Regions from separate parts of the Homo sapiens genome. Here region 2 is linked to region 1. Evidence: fine-mapped expression QTL. Tissue or cell type: nasal epithelium. Region 1 holds a variant in brackets; the other region holds the start of a gene. All regions are shown on one strand. Distances are between the middles of the regions.

Evidence for each region. PIP is the estimated chance that this variant, and not a neighbour inherited with it, causes the effect.
Region 2: it holds the start of RRBP1, and the variant in region 1 is fine-mapped to the expression of RRBP1 in nasal epithelium (TOPMed, PIP above 0.99).

The regions. Positions count from the first base shown.
Region 1 is chr20:17,839,596-17,847,760 of GRCh38, forward strand. The region is part of intron 1 of LOC107985440 (a long non-coding RNA gene); the gene reads right to left. Among named protein-coding and RNA genes, the nearest start is that of SNORD17, 120 kb to the right of the region's middle. The variant G/T (reference allele first, on the strand shown) is at 3,585.
Region 2 is chr20:17,677,694-17,684,235 of GRCh38, forward strand. RRBP1 (ribosome binding protein 1) reads right to left here and starts at 4,549. Exons shown (of 25, transcript NM_001365613.2): 1 at 4,335-4,549; 2 at 2,306-2,382. RefSeq lists enhancers at 1,843-3,042, 3,234-3,906, 5,160-5,219 and silencers at 3,480-3,789, 3,820-3,869, 3,900-4,229, 4,460-4,879.

The DNA of each region.
Region 1 (8,165 bases):
TGCTGACGGTGGGAAGCACAGGATCTGCCCAGGGTGTTGGGTGCTTCTGCAGAAGGATCAGCCCTGCCATGAACATGAAAACCCCTTGCCTGATCCCTGCAGCTCCAGCCAGTCACTAAATGACAGCCATGTGACTACTGTGTGTGATGGGCTCACCAAGTGCATCCGATACAGCTTGTGAATTCAAGGACCTTGCAATCTAGTTAGAGGGACCACATTGGCTGCATAGGGTGGGGGTAAGGGCATGGTTTGGGGATCAGATGGACTTGGGTCTGGGTAGCACCAAATCTCTGTGGGCCTCAAGTTCCTTATACGCAAATGAGAGATAATACCATTATCTACACCATAAGGATGTGTTGACTTTTGAAAAATATATTTTTATAATTAATCAGGCTTTGAAACCTTGACTCACATATAATTCAAAATCATTAGACATTTTGTAAATGAAGCATTCATTTGATCTTTAGATGTGCTGACTTTTAAACAATATTTATGTCAAGTACCCAGCATCATGCCTGATGAGCAATTAATATTTTAAAATGTTGACTATTATATTAGAGTTATCATTAATGAAGGCAGGTGAAAAGTGAAATGGTAAGAAACAGCTTATGCTGTGCCCTAAGTGACAGACACAGACAAGGGGTGAGGTCTTTCTAGGAAAGTTTAGGAAAAGACAGGCTTGTGCCTCCTTTAAAAGACGGGGTGAGGGGGAACTAATGCTGTTACAAAGGTCTCTATCTCTGATCAGAGAAGTGCTGGGAGCCACATGAGGAAAGAGGGTTTGCATGGGCAGGATTCCATTACCAATTTGAGCTTCAATCCCAACATGGCTTTCATTCCAAGGTCTTTATCCAGAAGTCTGATTTGAGGGATAAGAATCAGGGAAATGTCTTGGCTCCCATGTTAGTGTATGTGATGAAAAGAGACAGCAACTGGCATTTACTGGACCTCTACGATGTACCAGGCCCTGTGTAGGTGTTTTTATAAATAGTGTATCTGTCAGCTATTCCCACAATAAAGCTGTGTAACAAAATTCACAGCATACAACATCTTCGGGTTACATGGAATTTGGCTGGCCTAAGCGGGGCTCAGCTGGGCCTGACTCCTGGCCATCGGATGGGTTCAATTCTGCTTAGTATGTTTCTTATACTTCTGGAACCAGCGCTACCTAAAAAATTATTTTCTACAATGATGGTAAAAAAGTGCAGGAGCCAGCTTAACAGCACAAGCCCACTCAAGCCTTCACTTACATCATGACTGTCAACATCCTTGACCATAGCAAGTCACATGGCTAAGACCAAAGCTAAGGGACATTAAGTATACTCTGCCACCTGAGGCCATAGCAAGAGTGTGGACATCTAATATTAATGCTACTACAGGGAAGTGAAAATAGGAAATTATTATTCTACCTTCTACAGAAGCTGTTTTATTCTATCCTCTTCAACAACCCCAACAGGCAGCCATTATTAACCCCAATTTAGAGATTTTAAAAACCGAGACTCGGAAAATGCCACAGTAATTTAGAATGTCTAAGCCACCAAACTAAGATTTGTGCCTTGTCTGCCTGGCTCCAAAAACTGGGGTCTTCTGCCATTCTGGGCAGCCTGTTAAGTTGAGAATTTGCATTTTAAACCATCCATCTGTGGGCAACAGTGACCTATCATAAACCACGGTCAAAATCAGAGAGAAGGATTTGAGTACAAGTAGGTGATTTGGGAGGTGATCTCAAGAAGCACCATAGAGAAATGTGGAAGAGAAACAGGGAAGAGAAGCCAAGAAAGGGGGCTTACTGGAGCCAGTTACTGCTGTGGGAGGATGGGCTACTGAGGACAGGGGTGACCAATAGAAGAGGGTCACATACTTCAGAGTTGTTGCAACCAACAGGCGGGGAGCTGGGGTCCTTGTCCATCAACTTCCAGGAGCCATTGAGAAGCACCACTCTGGTTCACTGGGTCTCAATCTAAAATCATCTGGGAGTTTGTTGTTGTTGTTGTTGAGACAGTGTCTCACTCTGTCACCCAGGCTGGAGTGCAGTGGTGTGATCTTGGCTCACTGCAACCTACCTCTGCCTCCCAGGTTCAAGCAATTCTCCTACCTCTGCCTCCAGAGTAGCTGGGATTACAGGCGTGTGCCACCACACTCGGTTAAATTTTGTACTTTTAGTAGAGATGGGGGTTCCCCATGTTGGCGAGGCTGATCTCGAACTCCTGACCTCAAGTGATCCACCCGCCTCGGCCTCCCAAAGTTCTGGGATTATGAGTCACCGCGCCTGGCCAAGTTTATTTTTTTTTTCCGTGATGGCTGGGTCTCAGCTCCAGTGATTTTGAGCTGATGAGGCTGTGTCAGCCTGAGCATGGGACTGGTGAAAGCTCCCCCAGTGACCTGTTGGACATGGTAGTTTGGGAAGCTCTGGTCTAGCTAGTTCCTCGGATCCCTCTGAGCCTACAAGTTCGAGGCCTCTTTGAACAAGCTCAGCTGAGGATGGAAACCCTGAGAAAGTGGCCCGTGCAGCTGGAGATAAATCATTTATTGGCCGGGGCTGCAGCTGGTGGCGGCTTGAGAAATGAGCTTTTTGGCCTTAACTCCACTGTTTGTGCTCCCGTGACCATAAGGGAACTGAACGCACAGACTTTCTTTTTAGAAAGAAAAAAAAAATGTCAAGCATATTTTCCAAGGTTTAATTTCCCTCCAATGTCCTGAAGAAACCTTTCGAAAAGCTTAGACTGCCTCAACCCCAGTATCTAGTAATAACATCAAACACTTTGAAATGGAGACCCAGTGTGACTTTGTTTAACTAAATAAAACCCAGGGAAGGAGAGAAATTAAAAAGAGCACGGGTTTAAGAGAAGTCAAATTTCCACCAAAAAGGTGGAAGAGGGAAGCTGGTTGGTGGAGTAGGATGGGAGGCAGATGCCGAATCCCAAGAGTTTAAAATTCAGGAAAAGAAGAGAAATGCACTGTCTTTGCCAGATTTAGCAAATAAAAATATGGGATGCCTAGTTCAATTTGAATTTCAGATAAACAATGAATTTTTTTTAGTGTGTGTCCTGTGCAATATTTGGGACATACTTATACTAAAAATATTATTCATTGCCCATCTGAAATTCAAATTGAACTGGGCATCCTGGATTTTATCTGGCAACCATAAAACATACAAAAATTGGTCTCAACTGGTCAGGACACCCTTAACCAGGTGTCTCTGAGTTAAATTGGGTGACTCTGTGCTAAACGAGATGTCTCTGGTCTTAACTGGGCATCCCTGGTCTTCTCCCATTTGTAACTGGAGTGGAAATACCCATAAAGGAAGATAAGGAAATAAATGGATGGAAAGGAGAGGAGACAGAGAAAAAGGGGGTCTTCATGGGAAGGGCAGGGGCACCAGCATCCCTCTGCCTGCTTTCTCCCACCCCTGAGCTCTCAGCACAGCCGAGGGACCTGAGGTCAGAGTCCCTGTCCAGAGTGAGAATTCGCCTTTCCCTCTGTGAGCTGAGGATTTGGAGGAAGGTCTGCAGAAATCGGGAGGGCCATCTGCCCCAGCCCTGGAGAAATGAGATGGGGTGCTGGAGGTTTAACCCCCAGGCACG[G/T]ACTCGGGGCCACCCCTTCCCTATGGCCTGCCCTCCTTTGCCCAATCCTTTCTTCCCTGTGCTGCCTCCATCCGCCCTCTTCTCTTCTCCTACCTCCTCATCTCTTACCCTCCAAATAAGGAAGCCAGAGGCAGTGGTGTGGTCAGGGAGGATGCCTGCAGGTCTGATCCCTGCCCCCAGACAGAATCCAGTTGCCAATGAGGCAGCTGGGGAGGGTTTGGAGGAAGGGCTGTGGGTGCTGGGTGGTGCTGGGGATCCTGGCTCGCTGACCGCACAGGGCCCCACCGCTGGCTCCAGAGGACTCAGTGTAGCTGTCTCAGGCCTGCCAGGGCGCCTGCATTGGAGCCACATCAAGGTGAGAAGAGGGCCTGGCCTGCAAGGCAGCAAAGAACAGCTTTATTCCTTCACTGCCAGCGGCTCTGGGAGGTGGAAGATGACGTGGCCCAGTCATTCCACTCCCAGGAACTGACCCAAAGAAAATAATCCAGCCCAAGAAAGAGAGCTGTGCTCAGAAATATTCACAGCAACATAAGGGAAGTGGTTTCATAAACCTTGGCATGTCAGCACCGTGGAATGTTCCTTTATTTCACCCGACATTTAAGTGACCACTTGGTGACAGGCATCCTGCCAGCTACTGGGTACCCAAAGGAGGGTATAAGCCGATCCCTTTTCTCTGGGGTTCACAAGCAAAATGAGGGAGGTTGAGAATGCAGCCTCCAGAGTCAGGTAGCGATGGGTCTGTACACCTGTCTGTCCCCTCATCTGTAAAGTGGTGACACCCCATAGGAAGTGGTGAGGGCCAGTGGGGTGACACGCATCACACACACAGCACAGTGCCTGACATGCAGTGAGTGCTCAGCAGTTACCAACTACCCTCATGGCTCCTCCTACTCCTGCAGGGATGTGACAGGCATGGTGACGGGAGGATGTGTGAGCCGTTAAGAGTTCACAGAAGAGGGTGTGTAGGCACCACCACTGAAGTATGCGCAAGTGCTGAGAGCAGAAGGAATGATGGGGTTTAATTCTACTGGAGATGTCACCAAAGGTCACCATAGGCCTTAACTCAGCTGGGTCTTGAAGGATGTATAGAAGTTTGCTGGATGGACAAGAAATGAAAAGACATGCCAGGTAGAAGCAAACCTGTGGGCCCAGTGTGGGCAAATTCAACTCCACCAGACTCAGCTCTCCATCATGGTCCCCAGCCTTTTGGTGATGATCTCAATCTACTCAAGATGTTTTCAGGCCAACATTGAAAGGAAAGGTTCTGGGTCTCTTCCCTTTTCTTCCCATGATTCTCAGCCCCTGTGCAAATGTTCCCATCTTTCCCAGCAGTCTTTGCACTCTTCATATCAAGAGATATTAGAAAGACCAGAAGTGAGCCATTTCAATGTCCACTCGCACACAACCGGGTGAAAAGATCCCACGTTCTTGAAGGAAGGGTCTGTGGTGATAATATTGATTAATAACAGTCAACAAACACGACACCATACTTTTTTTTCTTTTCCTTTTTTTCTTTTTTGAGAACAGGGTCTCACTTCTTGCCCAGGCTGGAGTGCAATTGCGCAATCACAGCTCACCGCAGCCTCCAACTTCTAGGCTACAGCCATCTTCCCACCTCAGCCTCGGAAGTGGCTGGGATTACTGGGCTCTGCAGTAGGGCAGCCCTGGGTTTGAACCTAGATTCACTATTACTAGCTGGGTGACCTTGAGCAGGTCAAGCATGCACCACCACACCTGGCTAATTTTTTCTTTTCTTTCTTTTCTTTCTTTTCTTTCTTTCTTTCTTTTTCTTTCTTTCTTTCTCTTTCTTTCTTTCTTTCCTTTCTTTCTTTCTTTTCTTTCTTTTCTTTCCTTCCTTCCTTCCTTTCTTCCTTCTCTCTCTCTCTCTTTCTCTCTTTCTTTCTTTCTTTCTTTAGAGATGGGATCTTGCTATGTTGCCCAGGCTGGTCTCTAACTCCTGGGCTCAAGCAATCTTCCTGCTTCATTCTCCCAAAGTGTTAGGATTACAGGCATGAGCCCTCACACCTGACTGTTTACTCTCTATTGAGTACTTTACAAATACCATCTCTGTGAATTAGGTATTCTTATCCCCTGAGCTTAGATAATGCAGCTGAGTTGACGCGGCCTGCTGAAGGTCACCCAGCTACTAATAGTGAATCTAGGTTCAAACCCAGGGCTGCCAGAGCCCATTCCCTTACACTGGGTCATGTTACTAAAAATGCCAAAAGAGGCTGGGTGCAGTGGCTCACGCATGTAATCCCAGCACTTTGGGAGGCCAAGCCGGGTGGATCACAAGGTCAGGAGATCACGACAATCCTGGCCCACATGGTGAAACCCAGTCTGTACTAAAAATACAAAAAATTAGCCGGGCATGGTGGTGGGTGCCCATAGTCCCAACTACTCGGGAGGCTGAGGCAGGAGAATGGTGTGAACCTGGGAGGCGGAGCTTGCAGTGAGCCAAGATCATGCCATTGCACTCCAGCCTGGGTGACAGAGTGAGACTCCGTCTCAAACAAAAAACAAAAAACAAACAAACAAATACAAAAATTAGCTGGGTGTGGTGGCGCAGGCCTGTAGTCCCAGCTACTCAGGAGGCTGAGGCAGAAGAATTGCTTGAATCCAGGAGATGGAGATTGTAGTGAGCCAAAATCGCACCACTGCACTCCAGCCTGATGACAAAGCAAGACTCCATCTCAAAAAAAAAAAAAAAAAAAAAAATGCCGAAGAGCTAAGTCAGGGCTTTGATCAAGAAAGGCGAGAAGGCAGGGTTGAGCTCTTCGCTTGAGAGAAGGGGTTAGCTGGTGATGTTGTCATAAGCCCACGAGGGGCCACAGCTCTAGACCTGAGTGCTACACATTGACCCTCCTCTTGGCACCAGACACTGCCCTGCTTGTCATTTCTGTACGGATCAGGGTCCCAGCACAAAACCAAAACCATGCTAGATCTTCCAACCCAGGGAGTTTAATAGAGGGAACTTGTTTTGCAGCTTTGAATTGATGAACAGCCATATGAGGATGTCGAGGTCACCCAGAGGTTAGTAACAACAGGAAGCCACTGCTACCATCACTAGGGCTGGGACAGGAAAGGACAAAGGGACAAGGTGGGGTCATCAGAGTTGATGGTTCTGGGGCCTCTGGCAGGAGCTGGAGCCGCAGCAGAGAGGCAGCCACTGCCTGACACACCCCCAGAAGCAGAGCAGGGAGACACACCCTGAGCTCTCCCCGCCTCTGCCCTCCAGGCTTCTACTCACTTGTCCAAGCCTATCTGAAGCCAGAGGGCAGGGGCCCTGGAAGGGACCCTCTCCACACTGTAGAACAGAAAGCAGAAAGGAGAGAAAAGGGTCTGAGAGAAAACAGGAGGAGGCCAGACACAATGTCTACCCCAACAACTGCCCTTCAAGGTCATTGTTTTTACCCCATTGTAGAGATGAGGAAACTGAGGAAACACTCACATATCCACACCTGCACCTACACATGTACACATCACATACACATATGCACACATACAACCATTATGCACATCATACACACAGGCTCACTGCTTCACTTTGAAGAGGTTAAATGACTGAGCCAACCAAGATGAGACAACTTTTAGGTTGGTGGAGACCTAATTTAAACCCAGGTCACTATATCGGTTTTCACAGCTCAGGCCAAACTGGTCACCTCCAGGACTTTGTGAATCATGAAGAATCCAACAACAAAACAACAGCAACAACAGCAACAACATAACAATGTAAGAGACCTTGAAGTTCCAAAGGCTTAGCCCGTGTGGGGCCAAGGGTCAAGGGCCCTCGGATGATGATGGTGCTCGTGTTTCCCTCTCCTCCTCGGCTCCCTAAGTCCCAGCTGCAGAAGAACATTCTATTAAGCCACAGCCAGCACTCTGGTTTTGGGGACTAAAGGCAATTTTTATTTCCTTCTTTGTGCTCTTCTCTATTTTCCAGAAGGTTTTGTTGTTGTCGGTTTTGGGGGGTTTTTTGTTTGCTTGTTTTGAGACAGGGTCTGGCTCTGTCGCCCAGGCTGGAGTGCAGTGATGCGATCTTGGCTCACTGTAACCTCCGCTTCCGGGGCTCAAACCATCCTCCCACTTCAGCCTCCTGGGTAGCTGGGACTACAGGTGCATGCCATCCCACTAGCTAATTTTGTATTTTTTGTTTCGCCACATTGCCCAGGCTGGTCTCGAACTCCTGGACTCAAGCAATCCTCCTGCCTTGGCCTCCCAAAGTGCTGGGATTACAGGTGTGAGCCACTGCACCTGGCCTATTTTCCAGTTTTTTGTGAGGAGCATGCACTGCTTTGTTACTGGGAAGGACAGATCATCTTTAGGCAATATTACACGGTAGCAGGCCCCAGATGAAGGCTTAACAGAAAGAAAGTTGGGGCAAAAGAATGGTGGCAGGAAAGAGGACTGGCCAATACAGATGGCGTGTCACCGTCCTGCTCCCTCCTTCCCTGGAAGTGGACAAAACCAGGCACCATTCACATGCCATGGTCTGGGCTATTCTTAACATACCCTCACACATATGCACGCAAACCTCAGGTGCACAAATAGACACATGCACTTACACATATGGCACACATA
Region 2 (6,542 bases), 160 kb before region 1:
CCGGGTGTGGTGGCGCATGCCTGTAATCCCAGCTACTTGGGAGGCTGAGGCAGAAGAATCACTTGAACCCGGGAGGTAGAAGTTGCAGTAAACCAAGATCACGCCATTGGACTCCAGCCTGGGCAACAAGAGCGAAACTTTGTCTCAAAAAAAAAGAGAAAAAAGAAAAAGAAAAAAAAGTTATATGGAGAATAACAGAGCTGTGTAAATAGTCACTGGTGTAGGAAGCAATTTATGCCACCCAAGAACACTGGAACTCCAATACTTTGGAACTGAAAAGGTTTCGGGACTGGGCAGGTATTCTAGTCTTGCCAAAAAAATCTAAGTTAGAAATCACAAAATGTTCTTGATAAGTTAAAGTTGCTGCCCATTGTTGACAGGTGGAAGACACATGTTACTGAATGCACATAAAGGACACACACGTCTGGTTTTGGGGGTGTCTGGTTGTCTGCTTCAGGAGACTCGGCCAGAATTTGTCTGCCTAAGAAAAGTCTCCTAGGAGGCCCCTGAACTAATTTTCTATATGCTAAGTGAGAGTGCCTCCTTGCCTAGGCACTGTCACTTAAAATTAAATATTTACCTTCCCTTACAAGCCATCACTTTCTACCTAATATCAATTTATTTTCTGTCTTTGTTACAAGTCACCATTTTGATGCTGAGGGCATTGGGTAAAAAATCTCTCCAGGAAAGGGCCACTATCTGTGTGGCCCCCCTCCCACTCCTTTTTCTTGGAATGCAGTTTACAATGCACACAAAGAGGCGGGACTAATGCTTTCTCAGGGTGAGATCTTATCAGGTGAAGTGTATCAACTGCCACTAGTCAACTGGTTTTGACCTACAGAATGGGCAATTTCATGTGGTTCAACATATTACCACATGATCAAGAGGAACAGGGACATGAATGTTTACAGAATACCAGCTGCCTCTACATCAGCACTGTCTAGAACTTTCTGTGATGGTGGAAACCATCTACAGCCACGCTGACCAACTTATGACTACTGAGCACCTGAAATGTGGCTAATTTGACTCAGAAATTGAATTTTTAATTTTACTTAATTTGAATTGTTTTAAACTTAAATTGCTACTTGTGGCTACTGTATTGGACAACACAGTTCTAGACAGTAGCTTTTTCAGGCAAGAACTAGGTCTCACTTGCGGTGTTTGAAGGCCCACCACACAGGAGACCCTCGGTGAAAAAAATGAAATGAAAAATACCTTCAGCACTGCCAGATTTTCAAAATGCCTCCCCACCTTCCTGCCACTGAAGCTCTTAATTTTGATCTTCACGTTCTGTGTCCTCCCTTGGGTAATTATTGCCCCAGGAAGGTGGAGGTATATAGCCAGGAGGGAACATTTGGAAGGCCGGGCCCACATCGCCTAGCAACTGGGCAACAGGAACTGGCCTGACAACCTTCTGACCAGCTGGACCTCCACATTCTCATCCACTGAATGGGTGACAACCATTCCCACCCCCTAGAACAGGGTTATTTTAAGGCCTAAATGTAAACCACAGTTGTGGAATCTGATTCTAAAAAGTGAACCTTAAAAACCAAGTTGGGCTAAGCTTCATTTATCCAATGAGACAGCTGGGAATAGTTTAACAGGTATGGGGGCGCTGTCCGCCTGGTATAACCAATATTTATGATGTTATAGGCCAGGCCTTAACCACTGCAGGCCCAGCATGCACAGACGGACAGCACAGTCCCTGCCTTCATCATTCTGACTTGACCATTATTTTTGTTTCTCCTGAAACAAGATTTTAGCAAAGAAAAACTTGCTGTCTCAACAGAACTGTTGATCCTCTATGTGTCATTCATCTATTAGTTAAAATTCCCAGGGCTAAAAAGACAAGAAGAGTCTGGGGTCCCGACACTTTTAAAAGGTGTCCCTGCTACATAATAAATCAATACTCCAATTCAATCACTGGCATTCAACCATTTAAACTGAGTTTGCTGCTATGTAATTATTGCAGCCTGTTGAGTTAGGGCTCATTTCATTAAAGAGCATAATTGCTCAAATGTGACTTGATTTAAGATTTATTTAAAACTCTTCCATCACCAAAAAATACTCATATACCATGAACCACTGTAACTTCTTAATCTCTCTGTAAATGTTCAGAGGCAGATTCCTAAGTATGAAAGGTGAGAGTTGTTATAGTGCCTAGAGCTCTAAACCCTCTCCTAAACCCCAAGATCCCTTTCTGGTTTCCCCTCCCCCAACCTTAGCCTCCTCCAGGCCTCCACTGGCCCAAGATCCCTGCAAGCCGGCTTTGCGGTGCTCCATGTAAAAGGAAAACTTCACCTACTAGGAGGTCTGCCCCGGCCTTTGCTTCAACAGAGAGGGAAATGGCACCTCCAGGACCTCAGAACCGGAAGCTTCTTTCTGGAAGGGAAAGAGGTTGGCATATGATAGTGGGAGTGACCTTTGGCAAGTTCGTAAACGAGTCAAGACATCACACAGTAAGTGACATGCTGCAGGGTCACAGATTTCTCTAGGTGTCGGATTAACAGGAAGTTAAATCAAACAAGGAGTGTGAGGAGGGAGGCGGGGCAGTGGGAGAATGCCCCCCAGCTGCACAGGGCGGGGTAACATTCGCAGTTGTTCTTCCTGGGAGTGCCAGACAGACGTCCTGGGTCTCTGGGGACACCCAGTTCTGAAGAGGTATCTAATGTGAGATATGAGGCCCTACCAGGCCCATTTCTCCAAATTCCTGAAAATGCCATCCAGATGGCCCCTACCCTGAAGGTTCCAGCACGCAGAGTGAATAGCTGAGCAGTGACGTGGGAGGCTCCTCAGGTCCCTCAGAGTTTCATTTCCTTGGTGCTTCCCAGTCTCTCCTAACCTCTGACCTCTCAGAGTAATTGCCAAATTGCCTTCTGTTTGTACAAGGTCCCAGCACTTCCCGGCGTGGTTCCCGACCCTGTGAGTGGGTGGTGCTGTCTTCAGGCCACAGATAAGAAACTAGGATTCAGAGGGGCTATGGGACCTGCGAGTAGGCGGCCAGTACGTGGTCCGGGGTGTAGAACCCCGGCTGTGCAACTTCTGCAGCCCCGCGCCCGCCGCAGTGCCGGAGCCAGGCCCCACCTTCCTCCCGTGTCCAGCACCCCCCAACAAAAGCATCCCAACTGAACAGCCAACACTTGTGGCTCCTTCCTACAAGTGCTGGGTCTCCACAGCTTTCCTCGCAAATCGAAGCTAACAGGAGCCCCGATTTGCAGACCAGGAAATGGAGACCCCGAACGAAACAACTTGGTCGGGGTCACCCTCGCCAGCCGGGGCACTCTAGAGCTAAAACTCGCGACTTATCATTCGGAGAGGGGTCCCTGAAGCACTGCGGGCGCCCCACTGGAAGCGCAGACCCCGGCCTGCCTCCCCTAATCAGGGCGCAGCGGGAGAGCCGGCCGGGCCGGGGCGGGCACCAGGCCGGGTGCCAGCGCGCTTGGCCGGCCCGGAGGTGTCCGCTTCCGCCCGGGGCTGGCACCGCCGGCCCATTCATCGTGGCCGCGGGCGGGGCGGGCCGGGCCCCGGGCGCCCTCGTCCCCCCGCCGGGAGCCCTCGAGCCAGGCTCCGCGCAGCCCAGCCGGGGAAACGGTGGCCCCGGCCCCGCCGCCAGGGGGAGCAGGGAGCCGCCTCCCGCACTCCGGGAAGTTGCCACCGCGGCCGCCCGGCGTCCGTGCCATGGACAGACCCGGTCCCTGCGCCGCGAGCCCTGCGGCCCCGGCCCGCCCCGTCGGGGGCCGTCCCAGCCCCGCGAAGCGCCAGCGGGCCGCGGCCCGGGACCGGCGCGCTCGGCCCGTGGGCCCCCATTCAATCCCGCCCTCCTCCCCTCGGCCGGCCTCCGCCGCCTTCCGCCCGCACCCCACCCCTCCGGCCCGGACTCCAGCCCGGCAACGTCATCCGGCGGCTTCCCGAAACTTAACCCCTTCCTCCGCCAGCTGTGCGCCGCCCCGCCCCGCCCCGCCGCCAACTTTCTTCGCCCAACTTCGGAGCGCGCTGGCCGGCCCGACGGCCCTGCCGGGAGGGAGGGAGGCAGGGAGCGGTCGCCACGTCGCGCCCGTCTGCCGCCGCAGCTCCCCGGACGGCGAGGGCCGCGGGGTCCACACCACGGGGCGCGCCCTGCCTACGCCCCGGTACGGCGCTTGCCCGGCACCCCCGCCCCGAGTCCGACCCCGACCCCGATGGTGCACGGCCGCGGCGGCAGGCGGCGGGCGGCGGGCGGGCCGGGGGAGGGGCCGCCGAGGAGACGTGTCACTCGCGGCGCAGCGCGGCCGGCCCCGGCCCCCCGACGGCCCGGCCCGCGCGCGGCCGCTGCAGGGCCCGGCCAAGTTTCTTACCTGCAGCCAGAGACGCGAGAGGGAAAGCGAGAGGGCAGGAGCCGCCGCCTTCGCAGCCGCCGCGGAGCCGGGAGAGAGGAGCCGGCCAAGCCTCCGCCAAGAAACCGCCCCCGAGCAGCTGTAGACGCTGCGACCCTGACGCCGCCCGCCCCGTCTGCCGTCCGCTCCGGCCGCTCGCTGGCTGCGTGCGCGCGTGTGGAGTCGTGGCACTTTCTGCCTCAGAGCTGGCGAACGGCCCCCTCCGCCGGGATCGCCGCCTCCTGCCTTCCCCACCCGGGCCAGCCATTCATCGAGCCGCCTCTTCCCATTGGTCCGCACCCCGCCACTCTGCCGGTCGCTGGCCAGTCAGGACGCGGGTGGCCGAGCCGCGGCGGCGGCCATTGGGCAGAGAGGAGGGTCTCCACCTCGGCCAATGGGAGAGGGGAGGAGCTGCGGGGAGGTGAAGGGGGCAGGGCTGGGGAGAGGCGGGGCCGAGCGGCGCGGCGCTCGGCCGTGCGCGGGGCGGGGCGGAGCAGGAACGCCCCGCCCACCGAGGGGGGGGTCTCCGGCCAGCTCCGCCCACTCTGGGCCCGCGGCGCTCCCAGCAGTCTCTGACTAGGATCCGGCTCTGCCTAGGCGGGAAGCAGAAGGTTCGGGTCCCGGCGACCCCGGGCCTGCGCCTCTGGATACCGCTGGGCTGACATGGCGGTGGCTGAACAGGGTTGCGCAACCGCGAACAGCCAAGGAAGCTGCTTTATTTAAACCCAACTAACTTCCCCCGAAGCAGCGCCCCCTCGGGCCGCCGGGTATGAGGACAAGCTCTGCTGGGGGTCAGCCCAGGGAGAGCAAGTTCTTATCATCAAAGAGATTGCAATCAGCACCAGAAGGAATTTCCTTCAGTAAATGGAGGAATTGGGGTGGAAGAGCCAGAAGGTGCACGAGGAATTGAAGCGGATGTCATCGCCCTCGTTGTTAGGGAGGGTACAACTGAGGCACGGTCTATTTAAGATACTCAACCAAATCACAGCCGGCAGAGCAATAATTACAATCCACTCTGTGGCGTTTTATTCCATGCGTTGGGGAAGGTGAGAGGTTCTAACCTAAGAAAACTCATCCGTGTCCCACAAAACGGAGCAACTGGTACTTCCTCATTCCCTGACTTTCTCCCCAATATCAGCCAACACTCAGTCTTCATAATTAGTCAAGTCTTTAAATTAAAATAATTTTAGGCTTGATTTTTAACCATTATGTCAGCGTCTCTTAAAGCCAACCCTTTGAACTTGAGCCAAAGCCAGCTTCTTTGGAATTTTGGATTCTGAGCGACCAAAGGCTGCCTAGACTGCCCCCCATCACTTCCCTAGCTCCTGTTGCTGCAGAATCCCGTGCCTAACATCTATTTCTTGGACAATTTTCAATCTTCCCTGTCCCCATTTGTCACTAGTACTGTACTAGCTGTTGTTAGAAAGATGTGAAAAATACAAGCCTTCATGGGGAATAAAGAGCGATTGGGTTGAAATTAAACTGTTCATTCCTATTTTTAATCTTGGCGGTTCCTTAGCCCATTAATGATTAATCAGCAGGAATTAACCTGGATTAACTCTGGAACACTCAGTCATTTTCCAGCAGTGAGACCCGGCTTCAAATGAAAGTCAAGAATCCCAGCTTCTGGCTGGCAATTGCTACCAATGAGTCCTACTTGACCAGGGCTGGGCCATCTAACCTTTCTGAACATGGGTATACTCCTTTAGGACAATCACTCCTTCCTCTGGGTTTCAGGGAGGAAATTCATTCGTTCATTCATTCATTCATTCATTCACCGGTGTTTGTGGAGTGCCCGGTATACAGTGCTAAGCTGGGCAAGCAGCCTAGAATGACACATAGGTCCAGTGAAGACCCAGCTGCCCTCAAGGGCCTGTCCAGGGACAGGGACCTCCTTTATCCTGTTCACTGTTTATCTTTTTCCGGAAGCAGATCCTGGCAGTAGGGTTTGTTCAATCATTCATTTGGGGGATAATCATAAGAAACATTGGTGGAGAAGTGGGATGAGCAGGAGCCAATAAGGGGACCAACATCAAGCCTGTGACTGGTGTGGGCACACAGGGCTCGGCGTCTCTGGGGATGCTGTGAAACTGTAGAACACACCCCAGAGACGTCCCAGCTGAGGGGTGAGGACCTGGTTATTTATCCAGCCACTCCCAGTCCTCATTGGTTAACAGCTTCTTCTGGGGG